Linked DNA regions of Homo sapiens: all the other regions are reported to be linked to region 1. The links are microRNA targets in miRTarBase. Many come from high-throughput screens and were not tested one by one. Region 1 holds a microRNA gene; each other region holds the end of a gene's coding sequence.

Region 1 (4,062 bases):
GCCAAACTCCAGTGTCCCTGATGTTGTAAAATGCCCCTGATGTCACATTAGATCTTCTGATGACCATGGTGATTCTTGTTGACTCCAGTTGGCCACATGCCTAGACTATGCTTTATTGCTATGCCTAGACTATGCCTTGTTGCCCCTCCTGGAATGTGTGTTTCCACCACTTTCACTGGTTTATTATACTAGCCTGCCTAGTAATCTCTATGAATCTTTCTCTGGCCCTTTTTGATGCTAGCTGAGCTTTTCAGGTCCTTTCCTAGAACACTTGGCCTTGTTTGGAGAATTTAATCTAGACCTGGGACCTATGTGATAAGTTGCAGGGCCATCGCTCAGACATTTGACTCATCTCCTGGAGGGTTTTCTCATCTGTAAAATGAATAAGTCGGCTCAATTCCCGTTAGTCTCAAAGGGACACGAAAGCTTAACAAGATCGTGCTTCGAGATATTTGGAACACAGGGTGGCATTATCACATTATTATTTTCACAAGCTGTTAACCTGAAGGGGGAAAATAAAGAGTGGAAATTTAATGCCAGAGAGGTTTTGGCACTTTGTCAATTCAACATTAGCTTTGAGGGCTTTTGGAATTTTGCCTGAAATTTTCAACACCAAGTGGCTAAAAGCTGTGTTTTTCTGGGCTTGTGATATTCCTGTCCCCAGGGATGGCATTAAGCACTTGCGAAGGATGAACTGTGCCAGGCCTATCTTCCAGTGTCCCACAAACAGACAAAAAAGCAATGCACACTCTAAATTGCTGTGCAAACCCACATTTTCTACTTGGAACAGCACCTCTGACTTGTGCCAGTAGAAAAGGGATGATGGGAAGGGAGTAATCCACGATTGCATGTGTTAAATACATTCCCTATGTGACATGTGGGGCAATCGTGGCTGTGGAGGCTTCTGTTTGGGTGCTTGGATGGACCCTACTGAAGATCACAGGACCTTTATAGGTCTTTCACAATCTCCCACATCAGTCTTTTTTGAAAGAGAGCTATTGCTTATGCAAAAGTCGCCCTTGCCAACTAAACCAAAGACTGGGCTAATTAGAAGCTAGGAAAAAGAAATACATCCTCTTGGAACTTCATTTTGGGATTTTGGAAGGAAGAGAAAGGCAGGAAGACCTGCTAGAATCTGGGGAAACATTTATTCATTCCCTGTAATTAATGTTTAAGCTATGTGATCATAATTACACCGAAATATTCTAAGTGGTTTACTTTATTTGGACAAGAATTATTTTCAAATACATAGGATTCCACATATGCGCCTAAAACACATATGCACATATATTTAAAAAATAATATGCTTTATATATTAAAAGATGATAAATTTTCAGTGTCAAGAGCTAAAAAGTATAGTTTTGAATGAATGTGCTTACACTTCTTAATGTATGTACATTTTGTATTTTCATGAAGACCTACAAATCTGTGCTGTGTCAGTGGAAGAAGGGAGCTATTTACATTTTAGAGCAAAGTACAGTGATCACTAATTTATCAAAAACTGACAGGAAATGAGGCTTCTGTATAAATGAAATCTATCAATAATGGACGGTTACTTTTTTTTCAGTCAACACATTTTGAATGGCATTGTTTCTAAACTACATTGTAATATTCTCTGTCTCATTTTATAGCAATGCCTATTCATTTATCGTTGTAATGTGTATATTCATTTTAGAAAATATGAAATGTTAAAAAATATATCTCACCATTAATCCAACAAAGACCCCTATTGTTAACATTTCAGTGAATTTCCTTGGAGATTCCGAAATGTGTATACACTAGGTATTAGTATGAATATATATAAATATAGCTCTTAAACATATTTTCAACATTTTTCACTGTGCTTTTAAAAACTTAATATTTTAATTTCTGTGTCATTAAAATTTCTTAAAGTTTTATGGTACAGTGTGAATGAGTAATATGAAATCACATAGACATATAATTTATTGAACTATGCCACTATAGTTATCAATGTCAACATTGAGTGTTCATATATTTTCATATTTTTGTTTCCTTACAAGAGATTACTGTAAGTATAATAAAAATTTATATAACATTTTTAAGGATATTGATATATATTGTTACATCCCTAGAACTGTTGTGCTAGTTCTGTTAATTTAATAGATTGAAAGTGGCCTGTGTTTAAAACCTGAATTTCTTTTTTAGTTGTTGAGGCTTAACATTTTCACATTTTGTGGCCATGTTGACTTATTCTGTGAATTGTCTATTGTTTCACTGAGATTTTATGTGTTAAATATTACGTATATATTATTAAGCTTTTGCATTCGTATATGTGAGATATATTTTCCTAGATTGCATATTTCAATCTTTAGAATTTTAAATTTTTTTTTGGAAATAAAACCTACTTAGTATCCCATTCACCTATATATTTTTGTGTTTTTTGAAAACTGGTTTCAACTTTATCATTTGTCTTAAGTTCATTGAAATTTTGGTGTATGGCATAATGAGAAATAATAGTCTTATTTTATTCCAAGTAGTTAACCCTTTACCTGAGCACCATTTACTGAGTCCTTTGTTCTCTACTAGTTTGTAGTAGTTCGTAGCAGAGAACAAAGGACTCAGTAAATGGTGCTCAGGAATCTTTACCATATGTTAAAAATAAATCCATTAGAATCTGTTTCTGAACTACCTTCATGAATAGACATGGTTTCACATGTCTATTCTAGTACCTATATTTTACTGTCTTAAATATTACATTTATATGATGAATTTTAATATCTAGCAGGGAATTCTCCACTTCATATATTTTCATGTTCTTGGATGGTCAGACTCATTCCAGATAAACTCTACAATTGTATAGTTAAGAAATTATTTAGAGACTTTAATAGCAATTGCATCAAATCTGTAAACTAATATAAGAACTGATACCTTTGCAAATTTGTTCTTACCATCTAGGAACGCTGTGTAGATAAATAAATATTGATAAGGACCTAAATATGCATAAGAACACGAATAGATATAGATATCAGGAAAGATTTGAAATTTCATATGTTTTATATTTTTTATTTTTTTTGAGACGGAGTCTCACTCTGTCGCTCAGGCTGGAATGCAGTGGTATGATCTCAGCTCACTGCAACCTCCGCCTCCTGGGTTCAAGTGATTCTCCTGCCTCAGCTTCCCGAGTAGCTGGGATTACAGGCCCATGCCACCATGCCCGGCTAATTTTTGTATTCTCAGTAGAGACGAGGTTTCACCATGTTGGCCAGGCTGGTCTCGAACTCCTGACCTCAGGTGATCCGCCGCCCGCCTTGGCCTCCCAAACTGCTGGGATTACAGGCGTGAACCATCATGCCCGGCATATTTTTTACTTTACTTACTATGATTGTTCCTATGTACATGGATTATGGATTATTTCCTTTTTTTTTTTTTGAGACGGAGTTTCGCTCTTGTTGCTCAGGCTGGAGTGCAATGGCGCGCGATCTTGGCGTGAGCCACCGCGCCTGGCTATTTCCTTCCTTTTGTTCCACCTCTAATTGGTTATTACTATAATATAGGAAGCGATGGCTTTTTGTTGTATTGATTTGTATCTTTTCAATTTATTAAAATCTCTTAATAGTACTTCAGAATTTTTTTAGTGGATTCTTTCGAGGTTGTTAACCATGTAATTTTCTCAACTGCAAATAATACTAAATTGCCTCTTCCTTTCCAAAAGTCTTATTGTATTGATTAGAAAATTCAACCTAAGCAAAATAGGTTGTCTTATTATCCATAGTTGATGCGATGAGTTATGGTCTGTTCTTGCATTGTGGTATTGCTGTTTGGTTTTAACGGGTAGTTCTTTATATGTTGCTTTTTATTTCTATTTTATGGTATGTTGTTTAAGTTTTTACATCTCTGCTTAAAAACGAAATTCACCTGTAGTTTGTATTTCTTTCAAGTTTGAATCAGGGCTGTGCAAGCTTCGTAAAATGAAAAGCTTCCTAGATTTTCCTTTGGTCTCTAATTTCATATAGCATGGTAATTACATGTTCCTTGAAAGTTTGAAAAAAATTCTTGATAAAACCGTACAGCCACAATGTCTTTTCTTATAAATACTTTAAA
Region 2 (4,069 bases), not on the chromosome of region 1:
CCAGCCTGGGTGACAGTGTGAGGCCGTCTCAACAACAACAAAAAAAGTTGAACCTGCTTTTCTGTGTTTACTGGCTGTTTGGAGTTCAGCTGTTGATTTCCTTACCCCAACTTTATTTTGTGTTATTCTTGTTGACTTGTAGCTCTTTAGTCTGGATGTTAACCATTTGTTGATTAAATACATAGAGAGTATCTTCCCCTTGTCAGTTTATTTTTATCTTACAGATTATGTTTGGAGGGGCGGCAGGAGGGCTAGAGTTGCACTGTTTTCTGTAGACCAGTTTACTTTTATGGATATATGCTTTTTGTGTTCTAAGAAATATTTCTCTATTCAATAATATATTATTTAGATATTTTTATCACTTAAAAGTTTTTAGTTTACTTAGGATTTTTGAATACTATGAAACTGCCAAGCTATTAATTATTCTGTGTTTATTCTCGTAGGTGGTGCGGCTGAACAAGCTGGAATAATAGAAGCTGGAGATGAAATTCTTGCTATTAATGGGAAACCTCTGGTTGGGCTCATGCACTTTGATGCCTGGAATATTATGAAGTCTGTCCCAGAAGGACCTGTGCAGTTATTAATTAGAAAGCATAGGAATTCTTCATGAATTTTAACAAGAATCATTTTCTCAGTTCTCTTCTTTCTTTAGCAAATCAGAGTGACTTCTTTAAACCACAGGTTGTTGAAATGGCCAACACTGGTACAGACACGGACTATAAAAATCTCCAAGCTTGTGCTTACACATGAAGCCTGACTTAACTGTATGTGCAACAGCAATGAAATTAACTCCAGAAGCCTTCCACCTGCGTCACCCAGGCCGGGAGGGTTCCTTCGTTCCAGTGCCTGTCCCCTACCTTTATGTTATGTTTACTGATGGGGATACAAGATGTGACACACCCTTCTTTATTTGAAACAAACAAACATTTAGCTAGACCTTTGCTTCCTTCTTGCCAGCTCTCCCAACATACCCAATCCTGGTGATCAGGGAACTAAAAGTCTGAGGGGGACACAAATGTCACACCTAAGAGGACAATCAATCATTTTGTATGATTTTGTAAGTAAATGACAGAATGCTTTTAGGCACATTCAATGGAAGGAGGAGATGTAGGTCTGTATATGTTACCCTGAAAAGAGAATAAGACTTACTTAAAAAAATGAATTATGACCTGTTAGGCTGAGCTCAGGAATTGTCCAAAAAGGAAAAAGCAAAATAATTAATTGAGAGTATTTTTTAGTGAGTGTAATGTATAATGTACGTATGCAAAGTTCAACTCAATAGGTTATTGATCACCATGAAGTATTGATCATTTTCTATCTCAAAAGTGTAAGCCATAAGGCTGTTTTACAGAATAGCACTTCTGATAAGCTGTATTAAATAGCCATGAGCTTCACTGCTTAGAGGGAGCAGAAAGGTCAACATCTAAAAGCACCTTACAACTAGTTTTTGAACCTGTCTTGATAAGTGCTTGAATTCAAGACTGGTCAGTCCAAGAGCAGACAAAAATATCACAAGTCAGTCAGTCACTGGGTTTCCATTTCTGAATTTTATGCACTCCAACCATGAATTTAAACTAAATTTTTAGAAATCAAGTATCTTTCTAAGTGTCCTTGGATTTATAGACAATGTATGTACAATCCAAATAGAGGAGCTTAATGGAATCCTTTTAGGAGACTGGTTGGTTTTTTTCCCTCTTTCCCAACATGTTTAAGAAATGTAACATTCTAAGTATTGGATCTCTTTTCTTGACCTAGTATAATGACAACTGCAGTGACTTAAGTTTTTGCTGTTTTCGTTTTCCCGCTTTGCAATTTCCTCCTTTTGCCAAAAATGTTTTCCTACAGAAGACTGTCGTGACTCACGCTACTTGGGAAACTCACTCTGGCCACTCCTCCTCTGGTGGCATGAGCTGCTTCCCAGTAGCTATTCCGATTGGATATTCCGTTCGTCGTCACATAGCTGGCTTTTCTCTCCTCATGATGTACCTTATTTTCTTAGGTAAATAATTCCAAACTCTCATCGGGTCATAAAGAGGAGGAGAAACAGGGTGAGTCAAGGTAAAGGAGCAGAAATGTAGTTACAAGCCAGGTCGTCTTCAGTGGCACAAACCAACCCGTTGAGCCCTGACAACATGAGTGGAGAGTGCATTTGCCATACCTGTGTGCATGACACTAAGATTTTATGTTGGAGATACTTCTTTAAATAACCTACAGCTTGGGTCTATGGCTGTGACCCCCAGATTCATGGAGGGGCTTTAGCCATCAGCTTTGTACATCATCATTTTTCTGAATGACCAATCCCACTAAACATCTTTGAAGTCGGCCTAGAGAGGTCCTTCAGATGAGAGAGAAATAGCTGGCTTGTCTGAGTCCAGATTTCTCATCAACTGGCAATACAAAGGAAAATATGGTACAGGAGTTAGTTAGAAAGGTCTTATTGATTTTACTTCTACTTTTCACTACAGTTACAGGTAGAATACTGTAGGAAGTCAGTGCAAGGTGCATGCTTGATTGATAGATATTGATTGATTGTTTTTCAGTCTCTGGGGTCAGTTTTGTGGTTTCTGCTTTCTTGCCTAAATCAAAGACTATTTCAAGTCAACAACACTGAAAACTGCTTTTCGCCTCCACTCTTACAGCTGTGCCTAATAATAATTAATTAATAAACGCACAGCCCTATGTGAACAGACAGGAATTTCTTGTGCAATGTGGAGCAAATGGAATGGTCTCCTTCCGCAAGTCTTTTTAATCCTCATATCTGGAGTACAAGGGTAGACCTCTGGCTTACCACATACACTATGCTAAAGTCATCAGCCACTGCTACTACATCTTGCCAGAAGGTTTCCCTCGCCAACAAACAGTTGAAATTTAAGGGAAGAAGCAAAAGCTAAACTGTCTTTGACCCTAAGATAGATAGAAAGCTATTTATTTGTCTTCAGTGTTCAAGGCATGACTAGTATTTCTAATTAGCCTAATAAATTCCCACACTTTCTGAAGTGAACACTAATGGTATTGTCCTACTAAAACTGTCATTGTTTCTTTTTTTTTAACTGGTCAGTCATTCACAATAAGCTATGAGGGTAAATAAATATGTGTTATAACAAGTAAACCGTAGTTGCAAGAATATACCATGAAGATTAAAGTAGGCTGGGTTTCATTTCCATCTTCCCACACATCTCATTGAATTTGATGGTTGACTTAATTGGCACCATAACTTTGTATGATATTATACATTAACCTTTATTTATGTAAAGTAAAATGCCTTATATATTAAAGAGTAAGTGCAATAATATGAAATAGCCTGTACATTTTAAAAATGTTGTCACCAAGTTATATAAATCCACATCTCTGTAAACAACCTTTTTTAAGTAATTTTAAAAAAAATAAACACTCTGCTTACTACTTGATTTTTTTTTTCTCTTTTGGCTGTTTGTTTGTTAATAATAGAGTAATATTGAGATGAGAAATGTTTATTGTCACCTAAATGCATCAGAGGTACAAAGGCAATAGAACTCAAATTAGCCACCCTTTTCCAGGCCACACTCACAATCTTGACACAATCCAAAACTTTTCCACCTCTAAATCTTTCTTACAATTGAACATCCTACTCTTTTACCACACGCTCCCAGCCTCCTGGTCACTTCCTCCCACGTCTTCACTTTCAAAAAGCCCTTGACAGTTTTCTCCCTATCAGAACTCCACCCTTCCATTCCCTTCTCAGACCAGAACCCTAGCGTAGCACAGCAAACTCTGCCCAGCCCACAGGCTTAGATCCCTTGCCCCACTGTTGTGTCTTACCAGGCGATTCTGGACCCTTCCAAATAGCCAGCATCTTGGTTCCTATAACCGTATTCCTAGAGGAAAATCCCACAACTAGACAGAACGCTGCTGCTGTAAATTCACAGTTTCCAGCCTTAACTGGACCCTCGCTGCCACTCAGCACTTGTTTCCTTGTCAGTTTTTCCTCTCATTTTTCACAATAATGTTCTTTTTCTCAAAAACCCTACCCATTCACCTTCCCCCTCCTACTTGGATGATCTGGGATCCTACCTCACAGAGCTCAATAAAA
Region 3 (4,069 bases), not on the chromosome of region 1:
GCAAAGAGCTGCTGCAGATGACCTCATTGCAGTACTCTCAAATCTTAGCTCCACATTCCTCATTGATTTAGGGGCTGATGCCTCTCAAGGGATAAATGTGGGTATTCACCTATTAGTTATTGACACAATTCTGAGTTGGCCTCAAGGTACTTCAACCCAGGAACAGACATTTTCATACTTACTACCACCCCCTGACTTTTTGTCATTTATTTTTCAAGCAAACTCACTAATCCTGTTAAATTTCCCACATTCTGGAACTGGCTGTTTCTTAGTGGGATGTTTAACTTGTTCCATTAATTCTCACATTTTATGTAAAGTAGCAGATCTAAACCTTTAAATATATATATATGTACATGTATATATGTATATATTTATATACTATATATATGCATATACGTATTATATATATATATATATATATATACACATATATATATATACTTATATATATAAAATTAAATTCAGGTGCTTTCAGTCTGATTCATGTGTTACACACTTCCCTTTGATTTGACTAGGTCCCCGATCCCCGCCCCAAGGCAGAATAGCATAGGTATGTAAAGATATGTAGACAGATCACTTCTATTGATCTCCGGGAACAAGAGACAGGGAACCAGGAAAAGTAAAACAAGGAATGAGGAAAAAACAATTGAAGGCTGCATTAGAGAGCTTATGACCATGGGACACCACAGCTCAATTTTTTGGGGGTTCTTTTTGAGGATCTAGGTATAGAACACATTGGAAATAGTCTGCCCTGAGACAAGGAAGAGAGTGTTTATTCACCATGTCATGTTCACAACTGCTGATGGGCTGCCCAATCAGGTTTGTGTGGGCATCCTGATAGTAGTGCCAGGGTAAGTCCCAGAGCAAATTTTAGAGATATCCAATGGATCTGAAACAGGGTGCTGTCAGGCTACACTTGTACACAGATGGCTGGCTCAGAAATAGCCAGAGCACAAAGACAGGCTGATGGATGTACTGGACATATTTCATGCTCAATCTCAATTTCTTACCCTGTGGTCTCAACAGCATTGATATATATTTCCATGATCCCTTCTTTGTTTCATTAAGGGCTGCAAGTACCGTTTTTCTAACTTTTATCTTTATTCGGTGGAATTTTCCAGCATGAGCTTTTTGACTACCCTACAGGTTCGATTTTGTTGCTTTAGAGATTGGCAGCATATCAATTTGTCCTGAGAACTGATAATAAAGGGAAGTGAAATCAAGCACTTACCCTGCCTTTCTTGTACAGTGATGAGGTTATTAAGAGTTAAAAACAGACACATATACAAATATTTCATGCTCAAACTGTCTCATTTTTACATGGCCTGTAGAAATCCCTTCAAGTTGGCTTGTATAACCCTTTGACAGAATCCCAAGTCTTTAAGAGCCTCCTTGAATCCTGGACATCTTGTACCAGATATGAACTTGTACACTTACTGCCCTGGAACTATTAGCTGTTTTGCAAATAAGTTCTGATTCCTTTTAATTGCAAATGAAAATGAAAGAACACCATCTGGGTACTAGTGGTGCTCATTGTTACTGAACTGTAATTACTCTAGACCTTTTCATGTAGACAGGAGTGGGAAATATTTACTGTTTACAAAGAAAAATAAAGCATATAATGAGGTTTCCATGTCAAATTTAAGATTACTGGGGTCTAATGTTACATGATTATTAATTTAATCTATACTTTTAATAATAAAAAAGATATCAAGATTTTGTGAAATTAATCATGAAAAACCACATTCATTAGTCTAAGATTTTTTTCTGTCCTTAGTGTATATCCCACTGACAATGTAAAATTGAAATATTGTGTTTGATCACTTGAGATTATTTTTTCTCTATGTAGTAGTTCACTGTCCTCTCCTTCCTCTTTAGGGAACTATTATATTCATTTTGTATATATCCCCCAATTGCTTAGTTTTGAAATATAAGGAAATATGTACATATATATAATTGTAATCATTCTCCTTTTGTTACCCTCAAAATAACCATATAAACTACATGTGCTTTCTATGTTCTCACTCTGGAGATCATTCCAGTTTAGTATAGAGATCTTCACTCCTTTTACACCTGCGTAGTCTACACTGCTGTTTATTCAAACAATCCCCTATTAATGAATATTTGGATTGACTCTAATCTGCTTTTAAAAAATAACCATGGATACAATTTGTACTTAATACCTGGAAGTTAAAAAAACTGGCACTGTCATTCTCTTGATCACTCTCCTGATCCTCTGACTTCTTGAATTCCCATTTCCTCAACTGTAAAACAAGGAATTTTAATATGACTTACCTATCCGGGTTAAATAAAATTGCAATTCAAAAAGTATTCCCATATATGTTAAGAAAAACTGAAATAGCCACTAAAATGCATTCAAAATAAATAAATTATATAATTATCACTACACAGATTCACCATACAACTCATTTCTACTTAAGAGATTCATATAGACACAATGACAAAATAGATTGTGTCCACAGAAAGATCGAGAGTGAAATTTCCAGAAACTATCTTAGATGAAATAATTGAAGAATTCAGTTAAATATTTATTGAACAAATGCAGAGTAAATGAACTAAGGGCTGTTATAACCTTAAGTTACAACAAACAACTTCAAATATTCAGAGGGCTGTCACACAGAGAATGAAAGACTTGCTCAGTATTTCTCCAAAGGGCAGAACTTGAGCCAAGCGATAAATATAAGCAACCAATGGGCTGCAGGATAGTTGTACAAAGTGTATCATGTATCTTCATAGCTTCTTTGCCCATATAATGCATTCCACACTTAAGTTTCTCCTTCTAAAAGGCGACAGCACAAGTTAATATGTCTCATAAATGTCTTAAATAAGTTGCATTTTCATGGCAAGCCCTCCACTGCCAGCAATGGATATACTCACACTATTGGAAAAAATCTAAAGTTAACAAACTGGTTTAGTATGGAAATGGTCTATTTGTTCCTCAGCTATGTTTCTGTATCTTACATTAGTGGCTCTCAGGAGGTGGGGGGTGAAAAGAGAGCATGTTCTCCAAAGAGGGTGAATCATAATCCCCAGTGATTCAGATACTGTGCCTGGGGACAATCTTTCTTCAAGTCCAAATGAATCATTATAATTATCAACCAATGGTACATATAAGAGTACGGCATGTGCTGGGACAGAGAAAAGACAGTTGACAAACACTATTCTACATGAAACAGGAAATCTTATTTTATGAGTCACTAGAAAACTAACTGTAATACTGACAGGCTCCATCCAGATTATTAAATACTACAAAATGAGAACTGTTTCAACAACTATTCAGCATAACGTTTATGGACAAAATGTATATAGTATATCTTATATTCTATATGTATTTTATCACATAGTAAGGAATGCTGAGGTGCTTAAGCCATCCAATAAATTGAAAATACAAACTTTACATTTCTACGTTTGTCAGTATACAGGATTCTGAAGATGAATCTTGAACTCAGAGTGATAAATCAGTTTTCAAGGAAAGCCACATAATCCGTCAGTCTGGCTAACTGCTGTTCATTGGGTATTGGGGGAACTGGAGCAGGCTCTGTATGTTAAAGAAACAAACACACTTCATGTTACATACCACAGTAACAAAGCTTTGGCCCCAACACCTACCTCCCCTAATGCCTTCAATTTTTAACAGTAAGTTAACTTTCTTAGATTTGTCCTGGTTTTAGACAAAATCTTACATCATAGAGGCTTGGACATTTTTGAAAAGCAAGCCAAGAAGTTGCAACTTTTATGAGTATGGTTTTACCTAACTGCTAGTAAAGGCATGTCTCATGTTGTTGTTACTGAAGTATTCTATGTAAAGGTTAAAGACACTTTTATCATGCAACATGTCTTTTAAAAGATCACAGCTCTTCTTGAAAACATCCTTACCCATGCAACATTAAATTCAAGAAATAGAGTGCTTCCCATGCCCCAGACATCACTGAAGAATATTAAATTGTCAACAAACCAAAAAAAAAAAAAAAAAAAAGAAAACCCACAAAGAACCTCAAGGAATTTACATTCCAACATTTAAATTACTACACGTCAGCCTGGGGACGCC
Region 4 (4,065 bases), not on the chromosome of region 1:
ACAGGCACCCGCTACCACACCTGGCTAATTTTTTGTATTTTTAGTAGAGACAGGGTTTCACAGTTTTAGCCAGAATGGTCTCGATCTCCTGATCTCATGATTTGCCTGCCTCAGCCTCCCAAAGTGCTGGGATTACGAGCCACAGTTTCGCTCTTGTTGCCCTGGCTGGAGTGCAGTGGCTTGATCTTGGTTTACCACAACCTCTGCCTCCCTGGTTCAAGCGATTCTCCTGCCTCAGCCTCATGAGTAGCTGGGATTACTGGCATGTGCCACCATGCCCGGCTAATTTTGTATTTTTAGTAGAGACAGTGTTTCTCCATGTTGGTCAGGCTGGTTTCCACCTCCCGACCTCAGGTGATCTGCCCGCTCGGCCTCCCAAAGCGCTGGGATTTGGTAGGCACCTGTAATGGCATGAGGCACTATGCCCAGCCATCACATAAATCTTATAAGCAGAAAAGAGGAATCTGACTTTAGGGAAGGCATATTTTTTTTTTTTTTGCCTGATTTCTAAAAGAAAAATTTTCCATAAGACTTCATGAAAACGTAATCAAGTGACATTGTGGCCACGGGCAATTTTGCTTATCAGGTGCACTGGAATTTCCTGTCTGACTTACTTATTCCTAGATCCCTCCCTAGGAAGTTCTGACTGAGCAAGTCTAAGCATAAAAGTCTAGTGTGTCCTATAGTACATTTTGCCTTAATCCAAAACACTTGTATAAAAATTAAGAATTCATAAAGTGACTTTCTATCCATTACCTCTTTTGATAATTTTAGTAATCTAGTGAGGTTTGTCCAAATTTGTTTTTAAGCAGGAAAGAAAATTTATACTTAAAATATCAAATGACTTAAGACACAAAAAAAGATGACTTGAATTCATATGGTTTTAAACAATGCAGGACAAATGGAGTTAAAATTTTAATTTTATTGAAAATATTAAAGCCAGTAAAAATCATGCCAATGTTGTTCAGTAGAGGCTGAGAGGTTCTCAGATGAACCAGGTATTCGGTTATTGGATATTTTTCCAAATACTGTACCTCTCTCTACTCATCATATCAGGTTGTGTGTAGAATCTCTTCTCTCAGAGTTCACCTTATTTGTAGAGCATTCATAATGCTTATCCCCTCCTCCAGATATTCCTTCTTATCTTTTCCAAGGCATTCCCAAGGCCCCTTTATGCATAACTTTATCATTTCCTTCCACAGTTATGAGATACACAGAGCTATGTGATTGCTGAGTCCATAAACTTCTCAACAGCCAGCTAGTTATTCATTTTGGTAGCATTGGCTGATTGATATAGTAGGTATGGATTAAAGAAGCATTAAAGAAATGTGTAAAAAAAAAAAAAAGGGAGGGATCGGCCGGGAATGGTGGCTCACACCTGTAATTCCAGCATTTTGGGAGGCCGAAGGGGGGTGAATCACTGTCAGGAGTTCAAGACCATCATGGCCAACATGGTGAAACCTCATTTCTACTAAAGGAAAATACAAAAATTAGCCGGGTGTGGTGATGCACACCTGTAGTCCCAGCTACTCGGGAGGCTGAGTCAGGAGAATCACTTGAACCCAGGAGGCAGAGGTTGCAGTGAGCCGAGATGGCACCACTGCACTCCAACCTGGGTGACAGAGTGAGACTCTGTCTCAAAAAAAAAAAAATCAATGTTAATAAGAGAAACATAAGATCTATCTATCCAACTACCTATCTTAATTTAGGAAATTCTGGCTGCATGCCATGTCTCATGCCTATAATCGGAACAGTTTAGGAGGCTGAGGTGGGCATCCAAGTGATCACTTAGATCACTTGAGGCCAGGAGTTCAACACCAGCCTGGGCAGCATGGTGAAACCCTGTCTCTACTAAGAATACAAAAATTAGTCTCTCCCTTAGTTGCTTCCTTCTCCCTAGTTTAATGTTTTTTATATTACAACCCTAGATTGAGCCATTCCTCCCTGCTCATCAGGGCATCTTAGGTTGGTTCATGCATCAATTCCAAGTTTTTCATGTGCAGTTAAAAAATTTATGGCATTAAGATTCCCTATGTTTTAAAAATTCATAAGGAGAAAAGTGGGGCTCAGGCAGGTAAAGTGGCCTGACCACGGTTACATAACCATTAAGTGGCTGATTTAGAAGTTGAATTTACATCTTGTCTATGTCTTCTGTTCTTTCTGCTCCTCCATGTGGCCTTGCCTATTAGACTACATCATAGACCAGACCTGTAGGATGTACTCCAAGGATTTGGGGTGTGGGTACCAAAAATTATAGGTGTGTACCAGAAGCCGGAATGAAGGCAAAGTATTAGGACACCTGCAAGAAGAGGCAGGCTGTTCTCTGAGAAGATGGGAATGAAGACATACAAACATAAGTGACTGAGTTTAAAAGCTTAATTGGCCTTAGGGTAAGAGTCAGGAGTGTCGGGGTTGGGCATGTTTTGATTTCAATGCCCAAGCCTGATTCTCATCCTTAGAAGCACATGGGAAAGGGTGGGCTAAGTTCCGGGGGAATATGATAGTAGCTTTCTGAACTTACATTAATCACACCCAGGTTATGAAATGGAGCCAATGGGGAAAAGGAGCATTTCCAGACCAGATCACAAACAGAAGTTGGGAAAGGCCATGCTTCCTGAATATGCAGATAAAGTAACTCAACTAAGCAAAGGGGTGGTGTTGTATTTCTATGAACATCTTGAGGTATGACTTAGATTACTTAGCTTAATCATTATTCTCCACTGCCTTCTCCTATACTATTCTGCTCTGTTTCCAGTAGCACTATGGCTTAGAGATACAGCACAGGCCTTGGAATCAGGCTGCTTAAATTCAAATTGTGTCTTCATCCTTTATCAATATAGCCACATTAGCAAACCTCCCTGAACCTTCATTTCCTTATTTATAAAATTTAAGAATAATAATATCTATTTTGCATAGTGATTATGAATTAAATACTACAAGCCCTTAGTCATTAATCACTTAGCTTAATGCCTAAAACAGAGTAAGAACACAGTTCATACCAGCTACTAATATTACTACTTTTCCAGATCTAACACTTTTGTTTTCGTATTTCAATATGCATTTTCAGGAGAGACCCGAGTAGGGAAAAAGCAAGTATTTCTGAGCACTCAAACTATATTGTTTGCCCATATATCTAACTGCGTGAGATAGAAAGTTTGTTATCCTTTCTCTCTGAATTAGGTTCAGCAAATTTCACTCTTCTTATGAGTAACTAACTGCATGATTACGTGGGTCCTTAGATTGCTAGTGCGTGCTAGCCCCTCATTTCACAGGCTGAACTTGTACAAAGCAAGTTCCTAGCAGATTTGTGACAGGAATCAGGTCTCCAAACTTGCCATCCTTATTCACTTCATCTCACAGCTCTACCTCCTCTCTTAAGAAAATTTTATTATTAGAAACTTGTACATGAAAAAAATATATTCATTTATTTTTTTAAAATGTACTTTTTCTGCTTGTAGGTAGACATGGGTAACCAAAATTATTAAATAAAACTGGACAGACTCTTTTTCCTTTGTCCAATACACTGTTATTTCAGTTGTAAATTTTAAGTGAAAAATCACCTGAGGATGTCACTTTGATGAATGTTTTCCTTCATTATCATCAAATTCCATAAATCCTCTTGAGAAAAAAAGAGAAAATAAGAATTACAATTGAGACTGAACAGGAGTGTTAGAATGATCACTAAGGCGCTGTATAATGTTTGAGCCACACTGTTCTTCTCTAGATTTTTCTATGTCAGAAAGAAATAAGACCTAAAATTTCTACATAGTTCATAGTGGGCAAGTAATTTATGCATAATTATCTTTTTTGCATCTGCCAACAAACCCATTAGTTAGGTATCTATTCACACATAAACTCCATAAAGTCATATATTTTGGTATATTTTTCCAGTAATATATCCCCAGCACTTAGAACAGTGCATGGCAAATAGTAGAAATTAATAAATATTTGTTGAATGCATCTTTATTATCTCTTTTTATGTGTGAGAAAACCTTTGAAGCTTAAAGATTAAACAACCTGTCCAAAGCACATGGCTGGTAAGTTACAAAGAAAATTTAAAAATTT
Region 5 (4,069 bases), not on the chromosome of region 1:
TTTTTTTAAATTTCTATTTTTTGCAGAACTGAGCCTTTTTCTGCCCTGCCTTTCTCCTGTTTGTCTTTCCTTTGTGGTTGATATTGTGTTGTCTTCTCCAAAGTATTTGTCATTAGAAACTTACAGCAAGCGTATACTTTTTAGCATGTCAGTATTTTTATTATGTTGCCCTCCTTGTCTTTGATAACTGCCTGTGGACGCTGTGTAAACTTTCTGGTAAAAATCCTTTTTTTTCCCCCTGTAGTCTCTCCATTTCAAGGACTAAAACAGTCTTGCGTTAAGTAAAAACCTGTGACCAGAGCTGAAGGAAGACTCTAGGACTGAAAACTGCAACAGAAATTAGCACAATTTGAAAACAAAACAAAATTGCAAAAGCCTTAGTTGCTTTTTCCACCTAAGAAGTTGATCAATGGAGAAAATGTCCACTGGAGTTTGAATAATGAACTTTGAGTTTGGGTGCAAGCAAATGACTCAGAGAAGGGTCCAGCTCTCAAGCTGAATGACAAACATGCTGTTGTAAATTTAGTCTCAGGTGTAAATACCCAAGCCCTCTGGTACCCAGGGAGCTGGCTGGTCTGTGGTGCATGTGTGTCCCTGTGATGGCAATCATTGTAGTTGCTGGCCTTCAGAAGAATTGAGGATCTGATGGAGGTTTTTTATGTATTTATTTTCTGTTCACCTTGTGACCCTGTGTCAAAATTTATAAAGATACAAAAGGCATTACTGAAATGGTACTTTCTGTAATTTGATACTATTTGGCTTAATCATCTTCACTTGACTATTTGTAATACTGTTGTAATGTTAACTCTGTTAAGTACCCAAGCTGCTTGTCTTCCACCAAAGAGTGCTTTATTAACAAGAATCTGTGAAAATCACATTTAAACACTGTTGCATGTTGTAAGACCAGGTGGTACCTTAGTAACCTAAAACTTGCAAGAGAATATTAATGGTAGCTTTAGAAGACTCAGGAGGAGAAACTGACTTCAGAGTTGGAAGATGTTGCAAGTCGTTCCTTTTTCTGTCCTTCAGGGACTGAAGAACTGGGAGGCTGCCCATTGTTTGGTTGCCAGTCATACAAATTAAAATCATATTTCCTTCCATGAATGGAAGAAACACACTATTGGTTTTTCCCCTTGGAAACAGCAATCCCAAATAATGTCGGCTTACAAAAAAAAAAAGTTACCACTTTTTTAGAGTCCTTCCCTGTAACATTGGATTTTTTTTTTCCCTTATGAGATCCACCTAAGGCCATTGACGTGGCCTGCGATCTCAGTGACAATGATCTGCTTCTGGATCTCACTGTTGCCTTTGGTTAGGGAACACAACTAGTAACTCTGCAGAGTGCCTTCTCCCGCAGCCCTACTGGAACACAGCAGAGTCTGTGCCATGAAGCAGTTACAGAAACAGAATTGATGTGCTGCTAAAAAAAAAAAAAAAAATGGGGCCCGAAATAAAAGAATATATAGTACTCACCTCAGTTCCTTCCATAAGAAGTGGGTGGTTTAATGATTGTTAAGCCATTTTTGCCTGTGCCGGGAGCATGGAGGGCTGAGATGTCGACAGGCAGTGGGAAACAAATGCCCTCCTAAGCCACAAGGCGTGCGCCAGATTAGTAGGCAACTCCATTTTAAGAAGCTGCCTTTTTCACAAAACTGGAAGAAATAAAAGCGGTTGGAATAAACAAGTTAAAAGTCTTTAATGCAAAAAGTAATTGAAAGGCAGTGCCTCCATTTTGGTGTACTTTCTTGGAAGAAAGTATAAAATTGACCGGCATCATGAGAGACGGAAGATGCCGTGTTCTCAGCCAAACAAGCAACTCTTTCCCCGCCAGGCACTGTCGGGTGGGGTCAGGCCAGCTTTTAAACACTGGGGACTGGATCACAGAAAAACAGTGGTTTTCTGTCCCTGGAAATGAATAGGCACAAAGACCCACTTGGCTGTGGGCAGACTACTCTTCAATAAGATTTGGGTGGGAGGAGGAACATTCCTTTTGCTATTTTGAGCTGAGACAATATAAATATTCAAACTGTGCCATGCATAAAGCATTGAATTCTCAGGGCACCTCTTCTTCCCCTTACCCCTTTTAAGGCCATCCCCTCCATTAATAATAATCCAGGTAGTTGTGAAAATCGTGCTTCTATCTGATCCCTTCTTAGTTTGGCTTTTCATCCCATCAGAACAAGTAAACGTAGGCGCCACAGCTCTTGTGAGTACTGTCTCCCTCACGGTGAATGAGCCTCCTGGTGTTTCGTCCAAGAAAAGAAAGGGTGTCACTGGAACCACAGCCCTTTTTCATTTTATAAACTGCCTCTTCATGTTGCCTGCTCAAGTTTCCACCTAGAATTGCTATCACTGTGGCTCTTTCTAAAAATCTTTCTATTTAACTGGTTCACTGAAATTAGTCATAGAAAACTTGTGATTTGGTGAAGAGGCATTCCTTGTAATAACCAAATGACTTGGGATGGTGTGCATAGCAAGGGCAGTGTTACACTTATGAGGACTGTCTCTAGCATCCAGGAAGTCTCTGGGTCTGAGGGATGGAAAGTTCTTCCTGCTATGAATGAGAGTGGACTCTTCCCCTCACCCCCAACTGAAACCACAAACAACCAGAATCTTCTGGAATTCTGACTTAGAGTCGTTGTTATAGAAGACCTTGTTGCTATGGAACATGAAACTGTGTGTCAGATGGAGAGATCCCCTTAACCTAAGAGCCTTAAATAGCCCTGAAAGTACACTGGGACGGTTTGCGATGGAATTAAAATTGGAAGTGAATATTTTTAGGTGCTCTTGAAGCTTTCTGGGGACTCAAAATTATCAAAAGTCAGGGACAGTCCGGAGGAAGAGCGTCTGCAAAACTGGGTTCCTAGAAGTATAGACGGACTTAGCTTTTTGTAGAATTTGGTGAGGAGCAGCGCCTCGTGAGAGCAGAATGGCCTGGCGTGGCCAGTGCTTCCCGGCAGCACGCAGCTCTGCGGCCTCCAGAATTCCCCTGTTCTGAGCTTGATGCCCCTAGCCTGTCCCCTACCTACTTCCTCCCCTCCTCTCTAGCCCTCTCACAGGGGTGATTGCTACCTCTCTGTTTTCTTGGGCCTAGGCAAGTTTTAGAGGAGTTCCCAAGCATTGTTATGAGGCCAGTGTGCTCGCTGGGCTGGGCGGGATGGCCTGGGCTTGTGTGTGGCCTGAGGGCTCTCCTGGGGCCTTCTCTTTTCCCAGTCACCTTTGGAGCCACAGAAGCAGTGCACTCATTGGATGTCTGTTCTTAACACAGCTTCTCTTTCTACATTAAAAAAAATCATTATTGCATTTTGGAAAGCAGTGCTCATCAAAAGCAACTTTTAAAACCTATTTTATTGTTCCTTTAAATGTTCTCTCCCGCTGAAACTGCCCTGGAGAGGCTATCTGCTGCTCTTCCATTTACCCACATCAGGTTATTCTCCATGTCACTCAGTGGAGATGACTCCAGATGTGTTTAAAGACTGGACAATTCACCTATACTGTGTAGGAAATTACCTCCTTAATTACCTGGTAGAATTGTCAGCAGACATGTTCATCCGATGATAGTACTGCAGTTTTCTATTAATAATTTGCAGACTTTTATCTAACCTGCACTCATGTACAGATTATTAAAAGTTTTAAAATGTAACTGATCAGTATTGATCAATCATTGTCTTGATTTTTTTTTACAGCGTATATTTCTAATCATATTTTTTAAAGCCAAGAGAACTGGTTGAATGAATGTTTATTTTCCTGAAGGTATTTTTAAGATAAAGCTTCCTAATGGCGTGTAAACTTTGCATATGTATGTAGTTTGATACATATTGTCACATTTGAAAATCTTGTGGGTTGTAACTGGTTTTATACAAAATATCGAATAGTGGAAATTGTATAATTACAATCATGTAATTAAAAGTATTAACCCAACAGCCTTTTTGTTTATTGTGTTACTTACCAAGCATTTTGAATTCTGGTAGGCAGTGGGTTAGATCATAAAGCAGAGGTAACCCGGAATCTGTGTAAGTTTTCTAGGACGGCCATAATGGAATACCCCAGACTGGGTGGCTGACACAGA
Region 6 (4,069 bases), not on the chromosome of region 1:
CTGGTGCTGGGACAAATGAATGAATGCAAAAGAATGAAATTAGAACGTTACTTCACACCATATAAAAAATGATCTCAAAATGGATCAAAGACCTAAATGTAAGAGCTAAACTATAAAACAGAATAAATAGTTTGACCTTGGGTTGGGCAATGATTTCTCAGCTATACCACCAAAAATATGTGACAAAAGAAAACAATAGATAAATTAGACTCCATCAAAATTAAAGACTCATATGCTACAGATGATGGCATCAAAAACTGCAAAGACAACCTGCAGAAGGGGAGAAAAATTTTGCAAATCACATATATAAGGAATTCGTATCTACAATATACAAAGAACATCTATAACTCCTCTGTAGTAAAAATATAAGTAACCCAGCTTAAAAATGGACAAAGAACTAAATGAACATTTCGCCGAAGATATAAAATAACCCACAAGCACTGAAAAGATGCTCAAAATCATTAGTCATCATGAAAATGCAAATCAAAACCACAGTGAGATATCACTTCACACTCCCTAGGATTGCTATAAAAGACAGACAATGACAAGGGTTGCTGAGGATGTGGAGAAAATGGAATTCTCATTTGCAGCTGGTGGGAATGTAAAATGGTGTAGCTGCTTTGGAAAACAGTTTGGTGGTTCCTCAAAAATTTACAAATAGAATTTCCGTATGATCCAGCAGTTCCACTCATAACTATACACCCAATTGAAATAAAAACATATGTCCCCCCAAAAACCTGTGCACAAACATTCATAGCAGGATTATTAATGACAGTCAAAACTAGAAACAACCCACATGTCTATCAACTGAGGAATAGATGAAAAAAATGGGGTAAAGCCACAATGAAATATTATATGGCACTTAAAAGGAATGAAGTACTGATACACGCTACAACATGGATGAATCCTGACAGCATTACGCTAAGTGAAAGAAGCCAGTCATAAAGGACCACATGTTGTATGAATCTAATCATATGAAATGTCCAGAATAGGCAAACTTACAGATTCAGAAAGTAGATTAGTGGTTGCCTCAGGCTAGAGGGTGGGACACAATTGGGGAGCAACTGCTGTGGGCATGCTAGATGGGCATGGGGTTTCTTTTTTGTGGTGATAAAAATGTTCTAACAATCATATTGTGGTGATTGTTGCACACCTCTGACTACGCTAAAAACCATTGAACTCTATACTTTAAATGAGCAAACTCTACAATGTGTGAATTATATCTCAATATATTTCTTTAAAAGAAGATGGGCTACAACCAAGTGTGTTGAATGTTATGACTGGGGAGGGGTGATATGTGAGTGAATAATATGGGAACCCATAATATGGGAACCCAACTGGGCTAAGACATAAAGGATCAGGAGTTTGGTGACTGACAGCCAAGACAGAGCAGACAGTAAGGCCAAAGGCTTCAGGCTGGGAAAAGCATGGAAAATAGAAGGAAGTAAAGGTGTAATGGTGTGGTTGGAGTAGAGAGCAGGAAAAAGAGGGACAAGTTGTGGTTAGATGGTGGGCAGGGTCCAGAGGAGACAGGCTCCTGTGGTCCATGTTAATGATGCCAGATTTTTCCTGTGAGCAATGGGAGGACATTGAAGCGTTTTTAAGCCTGGAGAATGTAATGATTGGATTTGAATTTTAAAAAGTGTAGTCCAGCTGCCGGAAATTGATTTGAGGGATATGAGTAGATATAGGAAAATCAGATAGGGAGGCCATGCCAAAGTCAGGGAGAGAGATGATGTCAAAGAAATCTCAACTGAAGCAGTTAGCAGGGAGAGTGGGAAGTGAGAATATGTAGACAATGAGCTCTTCCATGAAATTTGGTTGCAATGAGAGGAAACAGGTGGAGTTTAGCTGGAAGGGGTAGGAGATGAAGAAATTTAAAAGATACACATTTTTAAATGGGAGTTAAATGACTCCAGAAGACAGAGACAGGTTTAGTATTCAGAAGACAGAAGAGAGAATTCATTCAATCAGGCCCTTGAGAAGGTGAAGGATAATGAGGAAGAAGTGGGGAGATAGTTACAGAGGAAGGTGGGTTTGTAGATTTGCAGGCAGAACTTCTTCACCCTCCTGCCTCCAATTCTGTAAAGCAAACCACAAGCCAAGAGTGAGTGGAAGTGCTTTAATGATGTGATACCAGAGGGTGGTGATTAATGAGGAAGCTAGGGAAGCGCTCCTGTGGCTGATGATAGGCATTAGTGAAAGAAACTGAAGTAAACACGACAATGCCTCTAATATTATCCTTCCTTCTGACACATTGTTTAAAAATAGGAAGGGTGGAAACATTAGTTAAGAGGGAATCGCGACCCTGTACGGAGAAAAGGTAGTAAGAGAGAATCCAGTTACTTTGAAAGTTTAAGCCTTTAGGCCCTGTGTATCAAATTAGCTTAAATATACAATTGAAGAATCATTTTTGATATTAGAAGTCATGCAGATTGGAACAGACACAATAAAACTGAAAATAATCAAATGTTCTGTTTTTAAAAAGGAGTGAAAGGAGAACTCAAGGAAATATGATTGGGTCAAATTAACTATGATCTCTGCAGTATTCATTTGCGATCATTAGAAAGCATCAAGCGTTCATCAGGAAATATTTATGCTACAACATTATTTATGGAGACAGTGTCTGTCTCTTGACTTCAAGGTACATGAATGGGAGATTAAATACTGTTTACCAAAACAATCGAGTTTTAGGTGATATTGATCACAGGTCGGCTGCGTGAAGAACTGTATACTTCGAAGGTATATTGGCACATAGAGAATGGTCACCAGGAGGTCTGGATGAAAACCAACATGAATAATTAAAGAAGACAGGCTTTGGGCAAAATAGCAAAGGTATCCTCAAATATTTGTAGGTCTTGCATGTCCAGTATTTTTTTCTACAGTGGTCCAGAGAGTAGAGCCAGAAGCATGAGTAGAAAGTTTCAGGGAAGTAGATGATTGCCTCTAGCTAAGGAATACCTAACACTCGGAGATGTCCAACAATGGGAACCACAACATCTTGAGCTCCCCTGTCCTAAAGAATTCTAGAAGACTGATGGGGCTTCTGCTACAGCAGGGTTAGGGTGTGGACTATGTAACTCTAGGGTCTGTTTCATGAAAAAAAATGTAGAGGAAATGACGTGAGTGTTAATTCTTCAGCACACTCATGCTAGAGGGATAAACACTGATGCCTACAGATGTTCATCATCTGTCCAAAGCTGCACAGTGAGACAATGGTACAGCTGGGGCTAGAGCCCGCTCTTCTCTCCCTAAGGCCTGACCATTTCTACCATTTCTGTTGCTCTACACCATTCCATTTCCACCATTTCTCTTGCCCTTCCCGTGATGAGAGATACTTTTTTTCTTTCGAACTGCAGTGAAGGATTCTAAACCCTCATTCATGCCTTTCAAGCCATGCCTTTCCATAAAGGTCCATTGGTCTACATTGTCTGCATGAAATCTGCAGCATTGGCCTTGAAACTCAAGGGCCTTGAGCAGCTAAGCCTTGGTTCACTTATGTAAGGGTCTGTCATCCCTGGGGAGGCTCTCCCAAGGAGAGAGTCTTATGTGCAGTTCTTAGAGGGGAAGGAGGACTCATGCTCCCAGGAGGGAAAGACTCCAAAGCTACCATGTCTTACCTGAGCCATGGGTCTGCTTTCCTCTTTGCTTCAGTTGTACATGACCAGGCTCATCCACTGAAAAATAAGCATCATCATTACAACAATTCTTTACACTTGTTAGCTTAATACAGAGCAGGGCAAATGCCACCCTCCTCCCTCGGAAGACCTCAGTCCAGTCTCATCACCCCTTCCAGCTAATTCCAACCCAAGCAGGGTACGGGGCGGGGTTGTCTCACAGCACATCTTCTGCTACTCCCTGAATAACCAGGCAGTGAGACGTATATATCTTAGGTCTACCAGCTGGCTGGTCAGGAGCCTCTAAAACTCAATGGGAATAAGTTTAATGTACAGTGAGCTCAGCGGGCTGTCCTTCTGTTCCCTCCTGGATTTATGACTCCCACATAATCCTCTGCTTTATTAAGCTATTGGAAAAAAATAAAATCTGTCTGCCAAGATCCTAAAGCAGC
Region 7 (4,069 bases), not on the chromosome of region 1:
CAGCCGCTTCAGAGATGGCCCTCCCCTCCGTGGATCCAACATGGATTTCAGAGAACCCACAGAAGGTACGGGCTCATGTGTCAGTGGAGGGCATCTTGTCCTGATGGGATGATCATGGCCGGTTCACACCCCGTGGGGACTTGGCGTTCTACGGCACACAGAGTTGTCGGCATAGATCCCCACGTTCTCTGGAATAGCAAGTTCACCTTGGTCATTAGAGCATCTGCTGTTGGGGTAGCAGGCCAGGTGAATTTTAGAAAGTGGGCTGGTTTGCTGACAGCAACATCAGCATGGTCGTTTTGCTGGATATGGAATGGGATCCACACTCTGACAAACTCTGCTTTTTCTCCCCCAGAGGAAAGAGCACAGAGACCACGACTCCAGCTTAAACCTCGAACAGTCGCGACGCCCCTCAATCAAGTAGCCAATCCCAACTCTGCTATCTTCGGGGGTGCCAGGCCTAGAGAGGAAGTCGTTCAAAAGGAGCAAGAATGAGCCTGCGGTTGGGAGGGAATGGGGCGTGGGGGGTTAGAGCAGGACCACAGCCTGGTGAGTCCCCGGGCAGCCGTCCTGCAGCCGCCACTCCTGCGCCTGCCATTGGCCTCCTCACAGCGGAAACACAGCTTGTGAGTGCATGTCAGCTGTTAACAAGTGGTTTTTAGTACATTCTGGGCTTTGCTGTATCTATCTAGTGCCTGTTTGTGCGTTTTTTTCTTTCTTCCGCTGCTTCCCCATTTTCCTTCTGTCCTTTTTCTCCTGCTCCTTGTTTTCCCAGCAGCACATGGGGTTCCTCGGAGGAGCAGAGGTGGCCGCCGTGGGGGGGCGTTTGGGCTGCGGTGCTGCGTCATTTTTCCTTTGCTTTCTCTTTACTTTAGACACTGGCCCAACTCCAGGCGTTTCCTTTCATTCCCTCAGTGCTTCTCTTCTGACCTGCATGTTGAGTTCTGTATTGCTGGGGCTTCCAACAAAAACCAGAGTCACTGACAGAGGGAACAGCAGAGACCTTGTTGGTATTCAGCTGTGATGGATATAGAGAATCAGAGGCACCTTGTTTTCACAACTAGGATAAAAATATCTGCAGGGTCCTTTCCATTCCTATTTAGAGGGAGTCCTGGCTCCATGACCCCCTCCCGAGTGGACTGTCCAAGCAGATAGGCTCACACGAGAAACAGTGAGGCTGAAAGGGGGGGCTATGGAAGAGCGGTAGGGAGTCCACGGAGAAGATGCAGTGAATGCTTGCATGCATTCACACGTGTGTGTGTCCCAGCTAGTTCACTCCTTTCGCCGTGCGTGGTGGAGGCTGGCCTCTCTGGCTGGGTGCAGTGAATGGCCAGCGGGTTTCTTTTCTGCTGGGCCAAGGCGCTTTGGGGGTGGAGGGGGTGGTGCTGGTGCTGCACTGGGCTGACTGCGGCGCTGACGCAGCGTTTCCCCCCATCCCTGTTGCCTGTGTGTTGTGTGGATCTGTTCCTAGTATAGGCAACATAATGAGATACTGTGCTTCCCACCTCCCCTTCAGTTCAGAGCCAAAATGGGTCTAGAATCTGGCACTTTACTCATTTCCTTTGATAAATTGTACTATGCAGAGCTGTCAGGAACCTTCAGATAGCAGTAGAGGACTGCAGCTGTCTAGGTCTGCGGCCACATCTTGGGGACACACTGGACTGTTCCCATGTGCAGGGTTCAGCAGTTATGTGGGAGTGCTAGGGGTTAGGCTTTTGAGCTTGAACGCCTGCGTGTGAACAGATGAAAAATCCTTCAGTACCCAAGTCCCAGTCTGTCCTATGGGGAGCAGTTTGGGGGCGGCCGGCAGCAGGAGCCTGGGAAAGAGGCCCTCGCCAGGTGATGGCAGGGCCAGGGTGGCCTGGGGCACCCAGCGGAATGTGCTTAGTATTTGGTCACCAGCCGTCATCCTGGGCTTTTCCTACTGTGTCTTGTTACAAGGCCTCAGCAATCCACAGAACTCTCTCTCCTTCCTTCCACCTGTCAGCTTCTCTGCTTCTGAGATAAGAACCATTTGTGTAACACCAACACTTAACTTCAGAAAGACATGCATTATGTGGTGTAATCAAACCCGATGCTTTCAGATGACCTACTTACATCTTCAATGTGGATAAGATAAAGAACAAAACACATGCATCTAAACTGCTGGGCAATCCAGTTGACTTTTAAATGTAAGAATGGAATTCCAAACACTTAACACATTCAGCTATATGACAGAAAGTAAATCTATGGATATGGTATTTTGTGAATGATCTTTTAAATAAAAGAAAACCTTACGTAATATTTAATGCTTGCCTTTATTTTTGAGTTCTTTTTAGCTGCTCATGGAATGTAACAATTTTAAATTTGGGAAGCACCATTGAAATGGAAGAGTCTTCCTGTCATTTTAATTCTGGGATGAGTGAAGTTATTTTAAAAGCTGGTGATGATTAGAAATAGGATGCCAATTTTTTCCCCTCACTTGCTAAAAATGTCCTTTTCCCAACCAGGCAGAAACCTTGAAAGTCTGGCTGTTTTTGGTTAGGTAAAGGAACATTTTTTTCCCAAGATGGAAGAAATCAAGCATTTACACAACATGTGGCTTCTTTTAACAACTGCTTGTAAACGAAATTCTAGGTGCCCCTCATGGCTGGGAGGGCTGCTGCTTCCTGACAGCAGATCCTGACTCTGGGGAGGTGCTGCTATAGGTTGGTATTGGATAGTGTTAAAATTGACTTAGGCAGACAAAGAAGAGCTGAGTGGGCAAGGTGCGGGGCATGAATGCGTGTTTGGCAAAGTCCTGGCTGACTTTGGAAGGGCCTGGCCAAGGCAGACCTTGCCTACCTTGAGGTAGGAGCATTGTCTGGTGATGGAGGACCCCGGACCACGACTAAATTTTAGTAAGGCAGGCAAGGGCTGTTCAGGTGGGAGCCTAGAGTAACTCTTTTGCTTCAACTACTTTCTACCCAAGAGTAGGTGGTAGAGAGGACCGGTGTTTCAGAGACAGGGTCTCCCTCTGTCACCCAGACAGGAGTGCAGTGGCGTGATCTCGGCTCACTGCAGCCTCCGCCTCACGGGTTCAAATGATCCTCTTGTCAGCCTCCCAAGTATCAGGGACTACAGGCACCCACCACCATGCCTAGCTAATTTTTGTATAGTAGAGATGGGGTTTCACCATGTTGACTAGGCTGGTCTCAAACTCCTGACCTCAAGTGATCCACCCACCTCAGTCTCCCAAATTGCTGGGATTATAGGCACAAGCCACCATGCCTGGCCCTGACATCTATTTTTAGTTGGTGATTTCTAGGGAATAGCCTGGTTTTCTCAATGAAGGACATTACTTAACAGAGATTAAGTCTAGAACAAGAAGAGCTGATTAACCTAGAACACGGGTTGACCTTGCCTTTAGGGTGGTGAAACGGCCTAAAACCTGAAGGAAGACTTCCCAGGGAGCTGGTCACTGGGGCCAGGCTCACTGGGCTTCTCTGAAGTCAGACCCTGGCCACATCTGGATGTTTTGTTTTTTTGGTTTTTGTTTTTTTTTTTTTTTTTTTTTTTTTTGGTGAGATGGAGATTTACTCTTGTTGCCCAGGCTGGAATGCAATGGCACGATCTCGGCTTACTGTATCCTCCACCTCCCAGGTTCAAGCGATTCTCCTGCCTCAGCCTCCTGAGTAGCTGTGATTATAGGCATGGGCCACCACGCGCGGCTAATTTTGCATTTTTAGTAGAGACAGGTTTTCACCGTGTTGCCCAGGCTGATCTCGAACTCCTGACCTCAGGTAATCCACCTGCCTCTGCCTCCCAAAGTGCTGGGATTACAGGCATGAGCCACTGCGCCTGGCTGGATGTTTTAAGATTTTATTTTATTTTGTATTTATTTTTCTTTGAGACAGAGTCATGCTCTGCCACCCAGGGTGGAGTGCAATGGTGTAATCTCAGCTCACTGCAACCTCCGCCTCTTGGGTTCCAGCGATCCTCCCACCTCAGCCTCCCTAGTAGCAGGGATTATAGGCACATGCCACCACGCCCAGCTAATTTTTGTGTTTTTAGTAGAGATGGGGTTTCACCATGTTGGGCAGGCTGGTCT

The links. The annotated mature microRNA hsa-miR-3919 reads GCAGAGAACAAAGGACUCAGU and lies in region 1 at 2,564-2,584, shown strand. An mRNA with a match to its seed (bases 2 to 7 or 8) in the 3' UTR can be bound and repressed. Matches are read on the target gene's strand: a 7mer-m8 pairs with bases 2 to 8, a 7mer-A1 pairs with bases 2 to 7 and ends in A, and an 8mer does both.
Region 2: the mRNA of PDZD2 is a reported target of hsa-miR-3919. The part of its 3' UTR that is shown has no 7-base or 8-base seed match.
Region 3: miRTarBase lists COPS8 as a target of hsa-miR-3919. Seed matches in the 3' UTR shown: 7mer-m8 at 3,156-3,162 and 7mer-m8 at 2,639-2,645.
Region 4: the mRNA of C5orf46 is a reported target of hsa-miR-3919. The part of its 3' UTR that is shown has no 7-base or 8-base seed match.
Region 5: the mRNA of CDC14B is a reported target of hsa-miR-3919. The part of its 3' UTR that is shown has no 7-base or 8-base seed match.
Region 6: the mRNA of CAPN13 is a reported target of hsa-miR-3919. The part of its 3' UTR that is shown has no 7-base or 8-base seed match.
Region 7: miRTarBase lists EIF4H as a target of hsa-miR-3919. Seed matches in the 3' UTR shown: 7mer-m8 at 1,989-1,995.

What each region holds. Positions count from the first base shown.
Region 1 is chr3:159,280,137-159,284,198 of GRCh38, forward strand. MIR3919 (microRNA 3919) reads left to right here and starts at 2,510; the gene lies at 2,510-2,598. The region is part of intron 4 of IQCJ-SCHIP1 (IQCJ-SCHIP1 readthrough); the gene reads left to right. The region is part of intron 1 of SCHIP1 (schwannomin interacting protein 1); the gene reads left to right.
Region 2 is chr5:32,107,526-32,111,594 of GRCh38, forward strand. It overlaps PDZD2 (PDZ domain containing 2), which reads left to right. Exons shown (of 25, transcript NM_178140.4): 25 at 444-3,407. The coding sequence ends at 610. It overlaps LOC105374711 (a long non-coding RNA gene), which reads right to left and starts at 666. Exons shown (of 4, transcript XR_007058716.1): 1 at 1-666.
Region 3 is chr2:237,097,153-237,101,221 of GRCh38, reverse strand. It overlaps COPS8 (COP9 signalosome subunit 8), which reads right to left. Exons shown (of 8, transcript NM_006710.5): 8 at 748-3,559. The coding sequence ends at 3,480. Among named protein-coding and RNA genes, the nearest start is that of COPS8, 13 kb to the right of the region's middle.
Region 4 is chr5:147,893,424-147,897,488 of GRCh38, forward strand. C5orf46 (chromosome 5 open reading frame 46) reads right to left here. Exons shown (of 4, transcript NM_206966.3): 3 at 3,561-3,618. The coding sequence ends at 3,570. Among named protein-coding and RNA genes, the nearest start is that of C5orf46, 11 kb to the right of the region's middle.
Region 5 is chr9:96,499,965-96,504,033 of GRCh38, reverse strand. CDC14B (cell division cycle 14B) reads left to right here. Exons shown (of 14, transcript NM_033331.4): 14 at 245-3,921. The coding sequence ends at 281. Among named protein-coding and RNA genes, the nearest start is that of HABP4, 52 kb to the right of the region's middle.
Region 6 is chr2:30,727,110-30,731,178 of GRCh38, forward strand. It overlaps CAPN13 (calpain 13), which reads right to left. Exons shown (of 23, transcript NM_144575.3): 22 at 3,621-3,677. The coding sequence ends at 3,651. Among named protein-coding and RNA genes, the nearest start is that of CAPN13, 78 kb to the right of the region's middle.
Region 7 is chr7:74,194,814-74,198,882 of GRCh38, forward strand. It overlaps EIF4H (eukaryotic translation initiation factor 4H), which reads left to right. Exons shown (of 7, transcript NM_022170.2): 6 at 1-65; 7 at 356-2,283. The coding sequence ends at 495. Among named protein-coding and RNA genes, the nearest start is that of MIR590, 5.6 kb to the left of the region's middle. RefSeq lists an enhancer at 1,326-1,827.